Regions from separate parts of the Homo sapiens genome. Here region 2 is linked to region 1. A link means that fine-mapping ties the variant in region 1 to the expression of a gene that starts in the linked region. Tissue or cell type: whole blood. Region 1 holds a variant in brackets; the other region holds the start of a gene. All regions are shown on one strand. Distances are from middle to middle.

Region 1 (8,000 bases):
GGATCACCAGCCGCACAGAGTTCCTGGGATCAGAGTAGGGGCAGGAGGGGTCATTCCTCACACACCCCAACCCTACTCCTCCCCCGCACGGGGCCTGGGCTCCTGGAAGCGGGGAGGAAAGCCTCCTCTTACACCACAGAGGAGGTCACTTCCCTTACCTTTTGTGGCTTTTCTCTTCTAGTGATTTAGCACAGAAGGCTCGAATCTCAAAGTCTACGCCGCAGGCCTCGGGGAGGGGAGAAAAGGCCACATCTTACCGGAGGCTCCCGCCACCATCACTGCCCTTTCTTCCTCCCCCTTCCCTCCTCTCGGGCAGGGACTCTTGCCTCATTGTGGTCTCACGACCCTGGGGACTAAGTCTTCTTCCTCTCCAAAGCCCAGAACCTGGCAGAGGCTTGGTCATGGTAGTGCAAGGGGAGCCCCCATCCCCAGATCCATGCGGGTCCACAGAGCAGGAGGCAGTGTCATGCGTGCACAATGACCACCACATACGCCCCACTTCCACGGGGGACACTGGCCTACCCTCGGCCCCACCCTGGCATCTCGACAGTTCACCCTCTGGCTCAGCTGTGCCTCCAGGCTCCTGCTGGCCCATGTCCTGCCCTAGGAGCCCTCAGAGCTGTTCCTCCCGTACCTTTCCTGTATCCTCTGGGCCTGGCTGCAGTGTGACGGAGCATGGAAGATTCTGGGGTATCTGTGGCGGAGGAAGGAGAAGACTTCAGTTCTTCCAGAAAGCCCCCAGATCTTCCTCCAAATCTCAACCTAAGAGGCTGGAGACGCTGGGTGTGGTGGCTCATGCCTGTAATCCCAACACTTTGGAAGGCTAAGGTGGGCGGATCACCTGAGGTCAGGGGTTCCAGACCAGCCTGACCAACGTGGCAAAACCCCATCACTACTAAAAATACAAAATTAGTCGTGTGTGGTGGTGCGTGCCTGTAATCCCAGCTACTCGGGAGGCTGAGGCATAAGAATCACTTGAACCTGGGAGGCGGAGGTTGCAGTGAACCAAGATTGTGCCACTGCACTCCAGCCTGGGCGACAGAGCGAGACTTTGTCTCAACAACAACAAAAAAGAGGCTGGAGAAAGGACTCCTGGGGATGAGAAGGGAAGAAGGAAGGGGCCCCAGAGAGGAGGCAGATAATCAAGGGCTTCCTGAATGCACTGGGACCCTGAAGGGAAGTGGATCTAGGGTCCCTGCCTCACTGTTTCTTCCAGATCTGCCCACAGCAGTGCCTTACCCCCACCCCAGACACAGTCCCAGCCCCAGCCCCCTGGCCCTCAGAGGGCAGGGGCATCCTCACGGTGAAGAAGAAGGGGTGGGCATGCTGGCCCAGCTTCCTCAGCAGCCGGTCCTGCAGGCGGGTGGGGGGCCGGGGTGGGTTGGGCACCGGGGGGAAGGCCTGGTAGGTGGCGATGAACAGGTCTTTGCGGAAGGACAAGCCCAGCACATCCAGGTCTTCACGGCCATAGCGGAAGGCGCAGGTGAGGGTCACAAACACTGGCAAGGGAGGGTGAGATGAGTGGTCAGGAGCCCCACTTCCCCAGTCCCCTGGCACCTAGCAGCCGCTGCTCCTCCCTCAGCAGCATAAGACTTGCCTGAACCCTACTCCTGGCTTCCACCTCCAGCCTCCATCTCTCTGGGGCGCCCTTCCAAGGCCAGCCCATTTCACTTCCCTAGCCCCCACTTTCCCTGGGCCCCCTGGACTTGGGGCCAGTACCTTTGCGGTCCTTCAGGTAGTCAGGGTCCACAAGCACCACGCCATCTAGGAGGGGGACACACCAGCTCACTTCCTGAAAGGGCCGCTCCCCGCTTTCCTGGGCCCGGGAACTTCTTCCCCTCTTGGGGAACGAGCTGTCCCTTTCTGGGAAAACTTACCTACAGGGTCCACTTTGTCCAGGTGATCTACGAAGTCCCGCTTGCCCAAGTACACGGTGAGCTGAGGATGTCAAGGGGTCACAGGGGAGATTGGGGAGGATGGTGACAGGGCATCGGAGCCCTCAAAACTGGCTGCCCTGCCCGGGGATCTCCAGGCTGGGCTATCAGGAAGGAGTTGTTCCAGGTTTCCTCCCAATAGTGTTGGAAAGTGAGGGTGGTGGCGTTTCTCAGACTAGTGGACCTTTAGGCTTTTGAGCTGCTCCTTTATCTCTGCACACCTCTGCCCACCAGCCCGGTGTGTGTGTGTTTGTGTGTGTGTGTGTGTGTGTGTGTGTGTGTCCTCAGCCAACCAGTCAGGTGTGTGTGTGAACATGTATGTGCATGTGTGTCTGTGTGTGTCCTCAGGGAGGACTCAGCCCAACCAGCGAGGTGTGTTTGTGTGTGTCCGTGTGTGTGTGTGTGTGTCCGTGTGTGTGTGTTTGCATCCTCAGGGAGGACTCAGCCCAACCAGCCAGGTGTGTGTGTATGTGTGTATGTGTGTGTGTGTCTGTGTGTGTGTGTGTTTGGATCCTCGGGGAGAACTCAGCCCAACCAGCCAGCTAGAGAGCAGCTGCCACCCTCACTAGGTCCCCTCAAGGGGCTCTAGGATAAATAGGCCATAGCCCGGGGGCTGTTAGGTTTTCCCAGCCCCACGCACCTTGGGTTGGCTCCTAGGAGGGCTACAGGCACATGGCTTGCTTTTGGCCTCCTCCTCTGTGGTCTTGCTTGGGGACCCAAGCCTGCCCCACCCAGCCCTGTGGCTGGCTCAGGCTGAGCAGCCTCTGCGGCAAGGGGCTTCAGGAGGGAAGGAAGTCGGCGCTTAGCTGTCACAGGAAGTGGGGAGCTAGGGGTTGGGGATCATCTTTGGGTAGGTTGGGGATCGTCTAGGGGAAGGCTGGGCTTTGTTGGGGCCCAGGGAGGGTCAAAAGGGTAAGTGCTGTGGAGACTCACCTTGCAGTTAGGGCTCGACTTCTTGAAGACCCTAACAAAACAGAAAGGGAAACCCCACTGCCTCCCTCAGACTCAGCAGGGACCCCACACCAGGACCCTCTCCCTCCCAGGCCTGAGAAGCAGTGCTCACCCAGGCCTCCTGCCTGAGGCTGTGGGGCTTTGCCCAGCTCTGCCCCTTTCCCCTTCTTCCCGGAAGGTCCTTCCTATTTCTAACGTGGTGGCAAGGGGAACCCTTCTTCCCGGAAGGTCCTTCCTATTTCTAACGTGGTGGCAAGGGGAACCCTTCTTCCCGGAAGGTCCTTCCTATTTCTAACGTGGTGGCAAGGGGAACCCTTCTTCCCGGAAGGTCCTTCCTATTTCTAACGTGGTGGCAAGGGGAACCCTTCTTCCCGGAAGGTCCTTCCTATTTCTAACGTGGTGGCAAGGGGAACCCTTCTTCCCGGAAGGTCCTTCCTATTTCTAACGTGGTGGCAAGGGGAAATGCCCCTTGTCTTGTCCACCCTCATTCGTCCCCTTCCCTCCCCAGTAATGGCCACTGGTTGCCCTAGGAACCACCCAGGCTCTTCCCAGAGGACCCGAATGGGCAGGTAGCCACAGTGTCTGGATAAGACCTAACCATCTTTCCATCTGGTCTACAGCTCTGACAGCTGGAGCATATAGGAGAGCAATGACCCTGGCCTTTGGCCCTCAGATAGTTTCTACCACAGGCCCTACCCAAGTTCGACTCTACTCACCTCCAACTGTCCCCAACTCCGACCTCAAGAGCTTAAAAGCCTATTTGTCTTTTAAGGCCCAGCCTTTAGGAAGCTGACCCAGCCCAGACCCTGGTCGCTCCTTGTTTTGGGTTCCTGTCACACCTTGTTTATGTTTTACTTGTGGTGTGGTAGCACACAAGGATAGTTAGCTCCCTCCCTCCTCAGACTGTGAGCCTCAGAGGCCTTATTAATTTAGGCATCTCCAGCACAATGCCAGCCATATCATGAAGATGGTAATGCTGCTAACATTTCAGAGTGACTACTCCATGCCCAGCACTGTTCCAAGTGTTTCAAATGTGTCATCTCTTGTAATACTCTGTTTTTTGAGACAGAGTCTCACTCTGTTGCCCAGGCTGGAGTGCAGTGGTGCGATCTCAGCTCACTGCAACCTCCGCCTCCCAGGTTTAAGTGATTCTCCTGCTTCAGCCTCCTGAGTAGCTGGGATTACAGGAGTGAGCCACCATGCCCGGCTATGTTTTGTATTTTTTTTTTTTTTTTGGAGATGGAGTCTCACTCTATCACCAAGGCTGGAGTAGAGTGGCACGCTGTCAGCTCACTGCAACCTCCACCTCCTGGGTTCAAGCGATTCTCATGCCTCAGCTTCCTGAGTAGCTGGGATTAGAGGTGCCTGCCATCATGCCTGGCTAATTTTTTTTTTGAAACGGAGTCTCACTCTGTCGCCCAGGCTGGAGTGCAGTGGTGCGATCTCGGCTCACTGCGACCTCTGCCTCCCGGGTTCACGCCATTCTCCTGCCTCAGCCTCCCGAGTAGCTGGGACTACAGGCACCCACCACCACGCCCGGCGAATTTTGGTATTTTTAGTAGAGATGGGGTTTCACTGTGTTAGTCAGGATGGTCTCAATCTCCCGACCTCGTGATCCACCTGTCTCAGCCTCCCAAAGTGCTGGGATTACAGGCGTGAGCCACCACGCCCGGCCGCTAATTTTTATATTTTTAGTATAGATGGGGTTTCCCCATGTTGGCCAGGCTGATCTCAAACTCCTGACCTCTAGTGATCCGCCCGCCTCAGCCTCCCAGAAGGCTGGGATTACAGGCTTGAGTCACTGTGTCTGGCCTGTATTTTGTATTTTTTTAGTAGAGACGAGGTTTCCCCATGTTAGCCAGGCTGATCTCCAACTTCTGACCTCAGGTGATCCACCCGCCTCAGCCTCCCAAAGTGCTGGGATTACAGGCGTGAGCCACCGTGCCCGGCCTTAGGTTGCAGTGAGCTGAGATTGAGCCACTGCACTCCAGCCTGGGTGACAGAGCAAGACTTTGTCTCAAAAAATAAATAAAT[A/T]AATAAATTAATTAAATTAAATAAAACCACCCAGTGATGGAGCTCCTAATATCTCTGTTTTACAGGTGAGGAAACTGAGGCAGAGAGAGGTCAAGTGTTTCAAGGTCACAGAGGGAGTAAATGGTGGGAATTAATAGAAACCAAGGCAGTCTGGCTCCGAGTCCATCCTCTCGATCAATATTACACTATCTGTCTCTGCAGTTGGCATAAATAGTTTGTTGAATTGAAGGTTATTTGCTTTCCAGTTGCTGAAACAATTTAAGCCTGGACTCCACCCATTGCTGGGAGGGTAAGGAAGTGTTTGGCAACCCCAGTGATCTGGCCAATTGTGGGCCTGTTCTTTGAAGCACCACCTTACTCCTTCCAATCCACTCTGCCTCAGCAGTGATCCCTGGAAAGGATCCTCAGATAGATAGCAGAAACGTGAAATCCTGCCAACTAGCCCATCCCTCTTCCAAGTCTACCACCCCATTCCCAGAGGACCCCAATGGGCAGGTTACCACAGTGTCTGGGTAAGACCTAACCATCTTTCCATCTGGTCTCCAGCTCTGACAGCTGGAGCATATAGGAGAGCAATGACCCTGGCCTTTGGCCCTACATGGTTTCTACCATAGGCCCAGTTTCTGCTACAACTTCACTTGCCCCTTCTTCCCAGAAAGCCAAGCTGTCCAAAGGTTGTAAGGCAAAGGGTATGGAGGGCCCCAGGTATTCCTAACCAATAAAAGAGAATACACATCGATATGGTAGCCGCTAGAATAAACACCCTATCTTTCATCCCAACTTGGGAGCTGAGTGCCGTGGCATCATCCAGGCTCTCCCTCCCCTTTGCTTCTGGTTTTCCTCTTTGTCCCAGGGTGTCCTCCCATTAGGAGCCCTGGCACAGGGCTGTGACAGCCACAATCAGTGGGCCAACTGGAGTGTGGTTCTGGGGCAATTGCCCTGGAGCAGCTGCAAGGCACTTGCCCTTTGGATCCTAACCCAGCCACCTCCTGCCAGGCTGGGGAGGAGCAGCGTGCATATACTAGGCTGGCCAAGGAGGCAGAGTGTGGGGATGACCAGGGAGGTGCCCAGTGGGAGCAGGGGTAGCTGAAGCAGATGTCCTTTCACACTTCCTGCTATTCGCTCCATTTCCTGTGGCCCAGAATTTCATGGGGGTGAGGGAAATTGTGCCAAGTTAGCAGTCTCCTTTGGTCCATCCGTCCCACTCCCTGAACCACATGACGGAAATCAGGGGCCTCCCACAAGTCAGCAACTTCCCCTTTCTCTGGGATGTTTAAACCCTGATCCAGGAGACGGATCATCTCTCTGATGATCTCTTTCTGATGCTCGTCTACTTGATGCTCAGAAACCCGGGTTCTCATACTCTATAGGTTGGAAGTGGGGTTGATATGATGTTTTGCAGAGCAAGCCAGAGCTCAGGACCAATTCCCTATTCCTGATACCCTCTGAGTTGAGGCCTACAGCCCCAACCTTTTCGTCTTTTGCTCCCGCTCCCCTGCGACTCAGGCATCCACCCCTTGCCCCTTGGGGGTGTTGAGTCACAACAGGAAGTGGATTTTGCTAGAGACCAAAAAAGAGAACTCGGGGTATCAGTGGAAGGAAAGAGCCTCGATTGCACAGAAAACATCCGGGGAGTGGACGCGCGCCCAGGGTGAATACTGCCTCCCCCACCCCCAGAGAGAGGGATACGATCTAGTTTCAGGGAGGGTCGCCACGCACTCGGCTCCCCCAAGATGAAGCTGTTGCTCCTGGCAACCCAAGGGAAGGTAGAAGTTTGGGTGAGGAGCCACCCGGCCCTCGGGACAGGTGTGGGCAGCGCGACTACCTGGGGGATATTGGATAGGAGGCTTTCCATTGGCTTGGCGCGAGTCTGGAGTGGATCCCCCCCGTCCCGGCATCCAGCCTCCCCGTACACGACCCCTCGGGGCCAGCCACCTGCTCCTCCTTCCTCCATCCCTGCATCGCAGCCTGCACGGGAGAGCCCAGTAGTCTGGCCCCACATCCCTGCGAGAACCCCGACACCGGTTTTTCTGATCCCCCTCAGGCCTCGCTTTCTGCAGGGGCCCGGGCATTTCCCCCCCACCCTCATTATCCTCGAGGACCTGCGCGTGCGGCCCCGGATGGCTGTCCCTAGGGACCCAGGCGTCCGGCCCCCAGATCCTCTCCGCTGCGCCCTCGTCTGGGACCGTCCCAGCCCCCGCCCCGAGCCGCCGCCCATGCCCCGCCGCGTGGCCCCACCTCCCTTACCTGGTCCCGGGTTTCTCCCCCATGGTGCGCGCGCCCGCCGCCCGCTCGGTTCGCGGCTCGCTCGCAGCCTCCTCGCCCGCTGCCAAGATCCCTGCTCCTCCCCGCGCCAATGCGCACGCGCGCCCTCCGCGCTCTCGCCTCTTCCCCCTCCCTCCCGGCCCCGCTCTGGTCTTGGGGAACCGGGGCCAGATGCGTCAGCCGGATCGCGCGCGCCGCGGCGCTGCCCGCCCTCTCCTAGCAGACACGCGGGGCCATTGGCTCCGCCCCCAGCCCTTCGCGCTCCTTCCCAGCCTGGTAGCCCTCCCCCGCGCGCGGGGCCAGCTCCCACTCCTCCCGCCCATCTCCCCGCCCCGCTGCAACCCCTTGAAACCGATTGGACCCCCCTAAACCAAGGCGCCCGCCTTCCAGGGGATCTAAGTCTTTCGATTGGCCTTCGGCATCCAGAACCTGCAGGGGTCTCCTCCCCTTTGTTTGCTTTCTCAGTGGCGGTGGGGGCGACCGGGCTGCTGGGGGCGGTGGAATGAGCTGAAGCGCCGTCTGGGAAGGAGGATGGTGGGGGGGAACACGTGGGTGAGCGGTTCAATTGCGTGATGCTTGCTTCAGTGCGCGCCGCTCACCTGCTCCACTCGGAGCGTGCCGCCTTCTGTGGCCAGCCCTCCCGCTTCTTCACTGCAGCGTGTCAGCTCCTCCTGGTGTTTGCATTTGATCTTCGCAGGGTTCCCTTTTCCAATGTCTCTGACTATCCATCTCCTTCACCCACCCATCCCAGCTAACATCCACTCACTCACCCGCTCCCATCCATCGGTCCATCTATGGACCCATCCATCCGTGCCT
Region 2 (8,000 bases), 26 kb before region 1:
AGGGGTCTCCTGAGAGGATGAAAGAAGGAGGGGCCTGGGGTCAGGGAGACCCCCACCTGACCCATCTCTTTCTTCCTTCCAAAGGGGCTGTATTCCCTGAGACAGCCGCAGTAAGAGGAATGGGGGTTTGCATAGGGATGGGGTTTCTGGGTGGAGTTGGTAGGGGTGATTCCATTGAGGGCTGGGAAAGGCCTGAAATGGCCCTGGTGCTGTTGGTAGGGGTCAGTGTGTATGTGGAGGGATCATCTGGGACCCAGACAACTTCTTCCCAGTCCTTCCCTCTAGGCCAAGGGGCCCATGCCTGGAGAGACCCCACGCACCACCGCGAAGAAGGCTGAGGGATGGCGTGTTGCCTCGGGGGTGTCTGGAGAAGCCCGGGCCTGGAATCAGCATGCTGAGCTGGGTCCAATAGCCACGAGTGAGGCCCCGAGAGGCCAGGAAGGCCTCTTTGTTGAAGGTTTCACTGGTCACCTCTGGAGAAGGAGAAGGGGAGGAGTTGAGGTGCTGGGCTAGAACCCCAGACATTTTTTTTTTTTTGAGACAGAGTCTTGCTCTATCACCCAAGCTAGAGTGCAGTGGCGTGATCACGGGACACTACAGCCTCGACCTCTTGGACTCAAACGATTCTCCCACCTCAGTCTCCCGAGAATTGTGACCACAAGCGAGTGCACCATGCCTGACTAATTTTTTCTATTTTTTGTAGAGACAGAGTCTATGTTGCCCAGGCTGATCTCAAATTCCTGGGCTCAAGTTGGCCTCCCAAAGTGCTGGGATTACGGGTGTGAACCATTGCCCGGCCTAGAACCCCAGCCTTGAACTCTCCCTAGCCTCCCGCGAGGACCCTGGTTCTAAGTCTGGTTCCAGTCAGGCCGGGAACTACCATTTCTGAGTGCCTCCAGCGTACCAGGCACCAAGCCAAGATAATCCTTGTAACAATTCCATGGGCCTTCTCCGTATCCCTCATGAGGACACGGAAGCTTCAAGAAGTAAAGTGGTTTGTTTAAGGTCACACTGCAGTTAGTGGTGGAGCTGGGAAGCAAGTAAGTGTTTGAATCCCTGTCCCCCAATCCCTGCACGCTCTCAGGGACCCAGACACTCAGGCCTCGGCTTCAGAGACCCTGTCTCCAGCCCCAAACACCCAGCCCCTGCCCTTGTTCCAGGGATCTAGGCTCTAGCCCCAGACACTCAGCCTTCAACTGCAGGACCCTGTTCCCAGACATCTAATTCCCAGTCTCAAAGACCTGGTCCCAGTTTCCCCCAACCATTCTGACCTCCTTATGGTACCTGCGGTGTAGGTAAAAGGCAGGGTTGCCAGTTCTCCTGCCCGCTCCATGAAGGCTGCAAGCCTTGGGCACCAAAATCGGTGACTCACATCATCTGGGCACCGCTGCCAGTCAGCCCGGAGACAAGCCTCTCCACAATACAAGACAGCACTACACTGGGGGCTGGGGACACAGCGGGTGGTGGGCACCTAGTGTTAACCTCTGTAGGTCCTGTCTGCTGTTCAACTGCCCAGCAGCTGCCCATATGTCACTCGGTCTGTTTGTCTTACACCCTCTAACCGCCTGTAACAGTCTGTATTGTTTCCTCTGCATCTTCTCATGTCCCTGCCTCTCCTTCTGTCTGCTAGGCGCCCCCCACCACCCTGCCTTCCTTCTATTTGCCTATTGGGGTCTTCCTCTCCCCCAGCTTTGGGGCTGCTCACCAAGGTGTCAGCTTCGCTTCAAAGCTGTGCCTGTGACACACATGGCAGGTTCGAGCACGAAGGGAAGCAAAGGTGAAGCCTGGCCGGGGACCCCATGTCCGCATTGGGGTTTTGGCTAACTTCACACCTAGCCTTGGGACCAAGCTCTCCAGCTCTCTAAATGCAGTTGGGGGGGAGATGGCATCAGGCTGGAGGAGGTGCTTGGGAATCCAGGGCCCGAGTCCTCCCCAGCCTCAGATACCAGATTTCTATACCGATGCAGCCGGGCATCTCCCACAGTAAGCTGTCGGGGCTTTCGGGGATCCCCAGAGCCCATGGGACAGGCCATGCTGTGACAGAGGAGAGCATAGGCCCAAGGAGCCAGGTCCTTGGTCCCTGAGCCCCAGCTTGCGGTTCCCTGGGCTCCATCCACTAGCAGATCAATGCCCAAGATGGTGCCATGCTCATCCGTCACAAGTAAGAGACAGGAAACGTGCAGGGGGGCAGCCTCTGGGGAAAGAGGGAAAAGTTGAGGTGGTAGGGGGCAGCGAGAGACAAATGTGGTCAGGGTCAGGAGTACCAAACTCAAATACCTACGGGGCTAGGCAAGTAACCTCACTGAGTAAAGGGCTCTGGGTAGAGAGGGCACGCTCCTTCTAAAGGGGACAGCTGCTACAGAGGACCAGAATGCGCTGCCATGCAGAAATGTAGGCCCACTGTCAGAGCTTGAGATTTTTCTTGGGAATGTGTAAATCCAGACTTCTGGATACTTTTTTTCTTGCAATGTTTAAACATTAAATTAAAAAAAAAAACCCCACTGTGGGTCAATAAAAACACCTTTTCAGGCCAGATTGGCCTGAAGGCCAGCACTCAGAACTAGTGGCAGGGGAGGGCTTCCGAAGGGAGGATGGCTGGGCAAGGGGTAGGGCAGGGCCAGCCCTGGGTTCTTACCACTCCTCTGTCCCTTCCTCTTCTGGGGTCTTGTTTCGTTCTCCACCCTGTCCTCTCGGCAGCCATCCTTGCCACCTCCTGCCTCCCGGGCAGCCTCCTCTGACTCTCCTGGAGGGTTTGTTTCCTGGGGGGACTCCCTGCTGGTAGGGGCTAGCTCCCGGTCCTCCTCTGGTTCCACCTTCTCTGTGCTGCCTGCACCCCCGTCCTCTCTCTTCTCTTCTTCTTCATCTTCCTCCTCTTCCTCCTCCCCTTCCTCCCCATCCTCTAGGCTGACAAAGCTGATGTAGGGGCTCAGGTCTCGCAGGTGGAGTGGAGGGTTGTCTCCCAGGAGCCAGGCAGTCCCCAGGCCTGGTCCAGGACCTGGTTCTGCCCCTTGCCCCAGGCTGATGCCCACACTATGGTTGGGCAGGACATGGAGCACCCAAAGGGCAGGGTCCTGGGGTAGCCTTCTGATCTGGGCCTCCAGCTGCCGGCAGCGGCCCTCAAGGCTAGTCCCTACAGCTCCACGCTCTGCCACAAACTTTCGGAACCAGCCGAAGAGAAGGGCAGTGAAATCAAGGAACTCATCCCGGTATCCAGACACAAACTCCATGTCTTCAGCGGCACAGGGCCCCGGCCCAGACTGAGCAAAAGAAGGGATATATGGTGAGGGACAGGAGAGCAATGATGGAGTTTGGGGCTGGGTCACAAATTGAGGGAGAGGGTAGGTTTGAGAGTCACTTAGGGTTGGATCCGTGGATATGCTAGGAGCGGAGAAGAGGATTTTTCAGGGCTGAGGATGGGAGTTTAGGGAGGAAAATGGGGGCTGGACTTGAAAGTGGGTGACCAGGGTTGGAGAAGACTACTCAGGGATGAGATGGTATTTGGGGCTTAAAATTGGAGAGTTCACACCCTCAAAAGCAGAGTTTAAATTAAGGCTAGAGAGGAGAGAGGGCTAATCCTATCGGGAACGGTTTGGTGGGGAGGGAAGCATTTTGGATGCGTCTGTGGGGTATGGGAGTGGGAGCGAGGGGGTTCCCTGGGCTCGGATCTGCGTGGCGGGCAGCCCCGGTAGACCTAGCCCCTCCCGGCCGCCCCACTCCTCCGGTACCTGCAGCCGCCACCACTTTTCGAAGGTAAATACCTCGCGGTGGAGGGTGCGCGGGTGCGGTTGTGACGTCAGGGCTGCCCGAGCCCTCGCCGGCTCAGCGGGCGGCCACGCCCCCCGGGCTCGGTGCGTCCGCGGGTGGCTGCCCCGCAGGTGCGCGCGGCCGGGGCTGGCGGCGACTCTCTCCACCGGGCCGCCCGGGAGGCTCATGCAGCGCGGCTGGGTCCCGCGGCGCCCGGATCGGGGAAGTGAAAGTGCCTCGGAGGAGGAGGGCCGGTCCGGCAGTGCAGCCGCCTCACAGGTCGGCGGACGGGCCAGGCGGGCGGCCTCCTGAACCGAACCGAATCGGCTCCTCGGGCCGTCGTCCTCCCGCCCCTCCTCGCCCGCCGCCGGAGTTTTCTTTCGGTTTCTTCCAAGATTCCTGGCCTTCCCTCGACGGAGCCGGGCCCAGTGCGGGGGCGCAGGGCGCGGGAGCTCCACCTCCTCGGCTTTCCCTGCGTCCAGAGGCTGGCATGGCGCGGGCCGAGTACTGAGCGCACGGTCGGGGCACAGCAGGGCCGGGGGGTGCAGCTGGCTCGCGCCTCCTCTCCGGCCGCCGTCTCCTCCGGTCCCCGGCGAAAGCCATTGAGACACCAGCTGGACGTCACGCGCCGGAGCATGTCTGGGAGTCAGAGCGAGGTGGCTCCATCCCCGCAGAGTCCGCGGAGCCCCGAGATGGGACGGGACTTGCGGCCCGGGTCCCGCGTGCTCCTGCTCCTGCTTCTGCTCCTGCTGGTGTACCTGACTCAGCCAGGTTAGCCGGGGGCGGGGCAGGGGACCCAGATTCCCCTGTCACGGGAAGGGGGTGAGTTGGGGAGGGGACACGAGGCCCACGGAGTTGAGTGGATGAAGGCAGCGGGGACAAGAGGAAAGCCAGCCAGCCGCCTGGGGTTGGGGACAGAGGCCCGGGGACGCCTGGCTCCGGGCGGGATTATGGATGTTGTCGGGGGCGTGATGATGTGTGGGTTGAGCCTGGCGCTCTGACCCTGGGTCCACCGAGAGGCTGTCATGGGGCTGTGGATTGGATGCCAGGGAACAGCGGAGTGGGGACCCTGGGCCTGGGAATGGGTGCCGACCACCTCCGTCCCGCGCAGGCAATGGCAACGAGGGCAGCGTCACTGGAAGTTGTTATTGTGGTAAAAGAATTTCTTCCGACTCCCCGCCATCGGTTCAGTTCATGAATCGTCTCCGGAAACACCTGAGAGCTTACCATCGGTGTCTATACTACACGAGGTAATTTTACCTGCCTCTGCGAGGGCAGCGCCTGGGCGGCCCCTCCTTGCAGGTGCCTCCAGGACCCTCTCTGGTCCAGCCTGAACTCCTTCCCGGCTCACCGAGCCCCATCTCCGGGTTCCGTTTGCTCTCATTCCCCGAAACTTCATGACTCCGTCTCACCTACTGGGGAGTTTCCCAGTCCCAGGAGAAAGGGCTCTTTCTTGGTGGCAACTTCACGCCTCTGGAATGAGGAAGGAGCCGGGGAAGGAAAGAAGGCGCCGCAGCTAAGCCCAGGTCTCTCCTCCGCAGGTTCCAGCTCCTTTCCTGGAGCGTGTGTGGGGGCAACAAGGACCCATGGGTTCAGGAATTGATGAGCTGTCTTGATCTCAAAGGTGAGACTTTTCCACTGCTCTTCAGGCTCTGCCTCCAGGGCTTAGCAGCTTCCACCTGACAGTTTTCTTTACCTGAGCCTTTTCCCCTGGGGCCGCACATTCCTAGAACCTTCTTCTGATCCTGTCCAAAGTACTTAGACTCGAGTCCCTGTTTGCCAAACGGGGTGATCATTCACCATCACCTTCATGAGTTTTGCCAATTCATTCTACCACGTGTGCTATTGTCTACTTATTAATATTTTTCTTGAAATCAAAGTACTATTTTATTTTATTTTTTTGAGATGGAGTCTCACTCTGTCACCCAGGCTGGAGTGCAGTGGCACGATCTTGGCTCACTGCAACCTCTGCCTCCCAGGTTCAAGAGATTCTCCTGCCTCAGCCTCCTGAGTAGCTGGGATTACAGGCGCGCACCACCAAGCCTGGCTAATTTTTGTATTTTTAGTAGAGACAGGGTTTCACCATGTTGGCCAGGCTGGTCTCGAACTCCTGGCCTTGTGATCCACCCGCCTCGGCCTCCAAAAGTGCTAGGATTACAGGCGTGAGCCACCACACCTGGCCTATTTTTCTTTTCCAATATTTTATTATGAAAATTTACACATATACAAAAGTTGAAAGAATGGCACACTGAATATCCAGTGCCTCCACCTAGATTCTACAATTTTATTTATATATGTATATTTTACATATTTACATAAACATATATTTTACACTATCAATTTTACAGCAATTACACGATATTTGCTTTATTAAGTATCCATCTATTCATTCTTCTATCCATCATCCATCACCTTATTTCTTGATGCATTTCTTTTTTTTTTTTTTTTTTTTTTTTAATGGAGTCTTGCTCTGTCGCCCAGGCTGGAGTGCAATGGTGCCCTCAGCTCACTGCAGCCTCCGCCTCCCAGGTTCAAGCAATTCTCCTGCCACAGCCTTCCGAGTAGCTGGGATTGCAGGTGCCCGCCACCATGCCCAGCTAATTTTTGTATTTTTTTAGTAGAGATGGGGTTTCACCGTGTTGGTCAGGCTGGTCTCAAACTCCTGACCTCAGGTGATCCACCTGCCTCAGCCTCCCAAAGTGCTGGGATTACAGGTGTGAACCGCAGTGCCCGGCCTCTTGATGCATTTCAAGGCAGATTGTGGACATCATTGCACTTCATCCCAAGACATTTCAGCATGTATATTAAGTAGAGTTCAATATTTTAATGCTTTTTTTTCTTTTGAGTTCAAATTTACATACAATGAAATGAATTACTTTTAAGTGTGCACAAACTAGTTTTGAAAACTTAAGTAGAGGCCAGGACGGTGGCTCACTCCTGTAATCCTAGCTCTTTGGGAGGTTGAGGCCGGTGGATCACCTGAGGTCAGGAGTTTGAGACCAGCCTGACCAACATGGTAAAACCCCATCTCTACTAAAAATACAAAATTAGCCAGGCATGGTGGCATGTGCCTGTAATTCCAGCTACTCAGGAGGTTGAGGCAGGAGAATCACTTGAACCTGGAGGCGGAGGTTGCAGTGAGCCGAGATCAGGCCATTGCACTCCAGCCTGGGCAACAAAAAAAAAGAAAGAAAACTTAAATAGTAAATTATCCTAAGCAATAATATCTGTGAAGTCACAAGTTTGATGCATTGGTTATATTTTTCTCTTAAAATAAATATACAACCATTAAAATACAAAAGGTTCTTCCATGTCCTAGCTAAAGTTTTGTAGGATCTGTGTCATCCATACTGCCTTTAAGTCTGCCTAGACCTCTATGATTTCCTTTCATCCTCCCAGGAACCCTGGCCCTTGGTACTACAATTATCCTCATTTTACAGCTGGAAGATATCACTTCCGGAGAGGTTAGGGACAAGGGGTGAGGTTACACAGCTACTTGAGGTTACACAGCTACTTTACAGCAGAGCTTGGAATCCAACCCTGGTCTTCTGATTTCCCAGTTCATGACACCCACTTGTCTCGTGGTTCGCTCACTTCCTTGTCCCCTACCTTTTCCGTCTGTCATCTGCCTTCCTCTTCTGGCCTTCAGCGTGATAACCTCCCTGACTCACTCTTCCCTCTGTTGGAGCTCAGAACATGACACTCCAAAACATGGCACCTTGGTAATTACGAAAACAGCAGAAGTAAGTAGCTCACTCTGCTCTGTTTTTCTGTGAGAGCTGGCCATAAAGGAATTCTCTAACTTCACGTGGAAGTAGGTCATAGGCTCTCATTTCAGATGGGTCCTGCCCTATACTTGGAGGCCAAGAAGAATCTGGACAGGCCTTGCTGGTCCCCCACCCCCCATTTATTGCCATTAGATCATACCCTTTTTGTCCAATCATACTTCTTTTTTTTTTTTGAGATGGAGTTTCGCTCTTGTTGCCCAGGCTGGAATGCAGTTGTGCAATCTTGGCTCACTGCAACCTCCACCTCCTGGGTTCAGGCGATTCTGCCTCAGCCTCCCATGTAGCTGGGATTACAGGCACATGACACCATGCCTGGCTAATTTTGTATTTTTAGTAGAGACTGGGTTTCTCCATGTTGGTCAGACTGGTCTCGAACTCCCGACCTCAGGTGATCCACCCACCTCAGCCTCCCAAAGTGCTGGGATTACAGGCGTGAACCACCGCGCCCGGCCAATCCAATCATACGTC

Evidence for each region. PIP is the estimated chance that this variant, and not a neighbour inherited with it, causes the effect.
Region 2: it holds the start of ZMYND15, and the variant in region 1 is fine-mapped to the expression of ZMYND15 in whole blood (TOPMed, PIP above 0.99).

Annotation. Positions count from the first base shown.
Region 1 is chr17:4,709,911-4,717,910 of GRCh38, reverse strand. It overlaps ARRB2 (arrestin beta 2), which reads right to left and starts at 7,279. Exons shown (of 15, transcript NM_004313.4): 1 at 7,167-7,279; 2 at 2,868-2,898; 3 at 1,878-1,938; 4 at 1,720-1,764; 5 at 1,303-1,499; 6 at 635-694; 7 at 159-226; 8 at 1-23. The coding sequence starts at 7,189. RefSeq lists enhancers at 194-363, 2,780-2,849, 7,492-7,661 and a silencer at 7,033-7,562. The variant A/T (reference allele first, on the strand shown) is at 4,920.
Region 2 is chr17:4,735,776-4,743,775 of GRCh38, reverse strand. ZMYND15 (zinc finger MYND-type containing 15) reads right to left here and starts at 3,943. Exons shown (of 14, transcript NM_001136046.3): 1 at 3,726-3,943; 2 at 2,636-3,257; 3 at 1,960-2,194; 4 at 1,706-1,861; 5 at 1,285-1,445; 6 at 321-473; 7 at 1-9. The coding sequence starts at 3,227. It overlaps CXCL16 (C-X-C motif chemokine ligand 16), which reads left to right and starts at 3,848. Exons shown (of 6, transcript NM_001386809.1): 1 at 3,848-4,515; 2 at 4,856-4,994; 3 at 5,286-5,368. The coding sequence starts at 4,437. RefSeq lists a silencer at 3,757-3,976 and enhancers at 3,525-4,429, 4,430-5,335.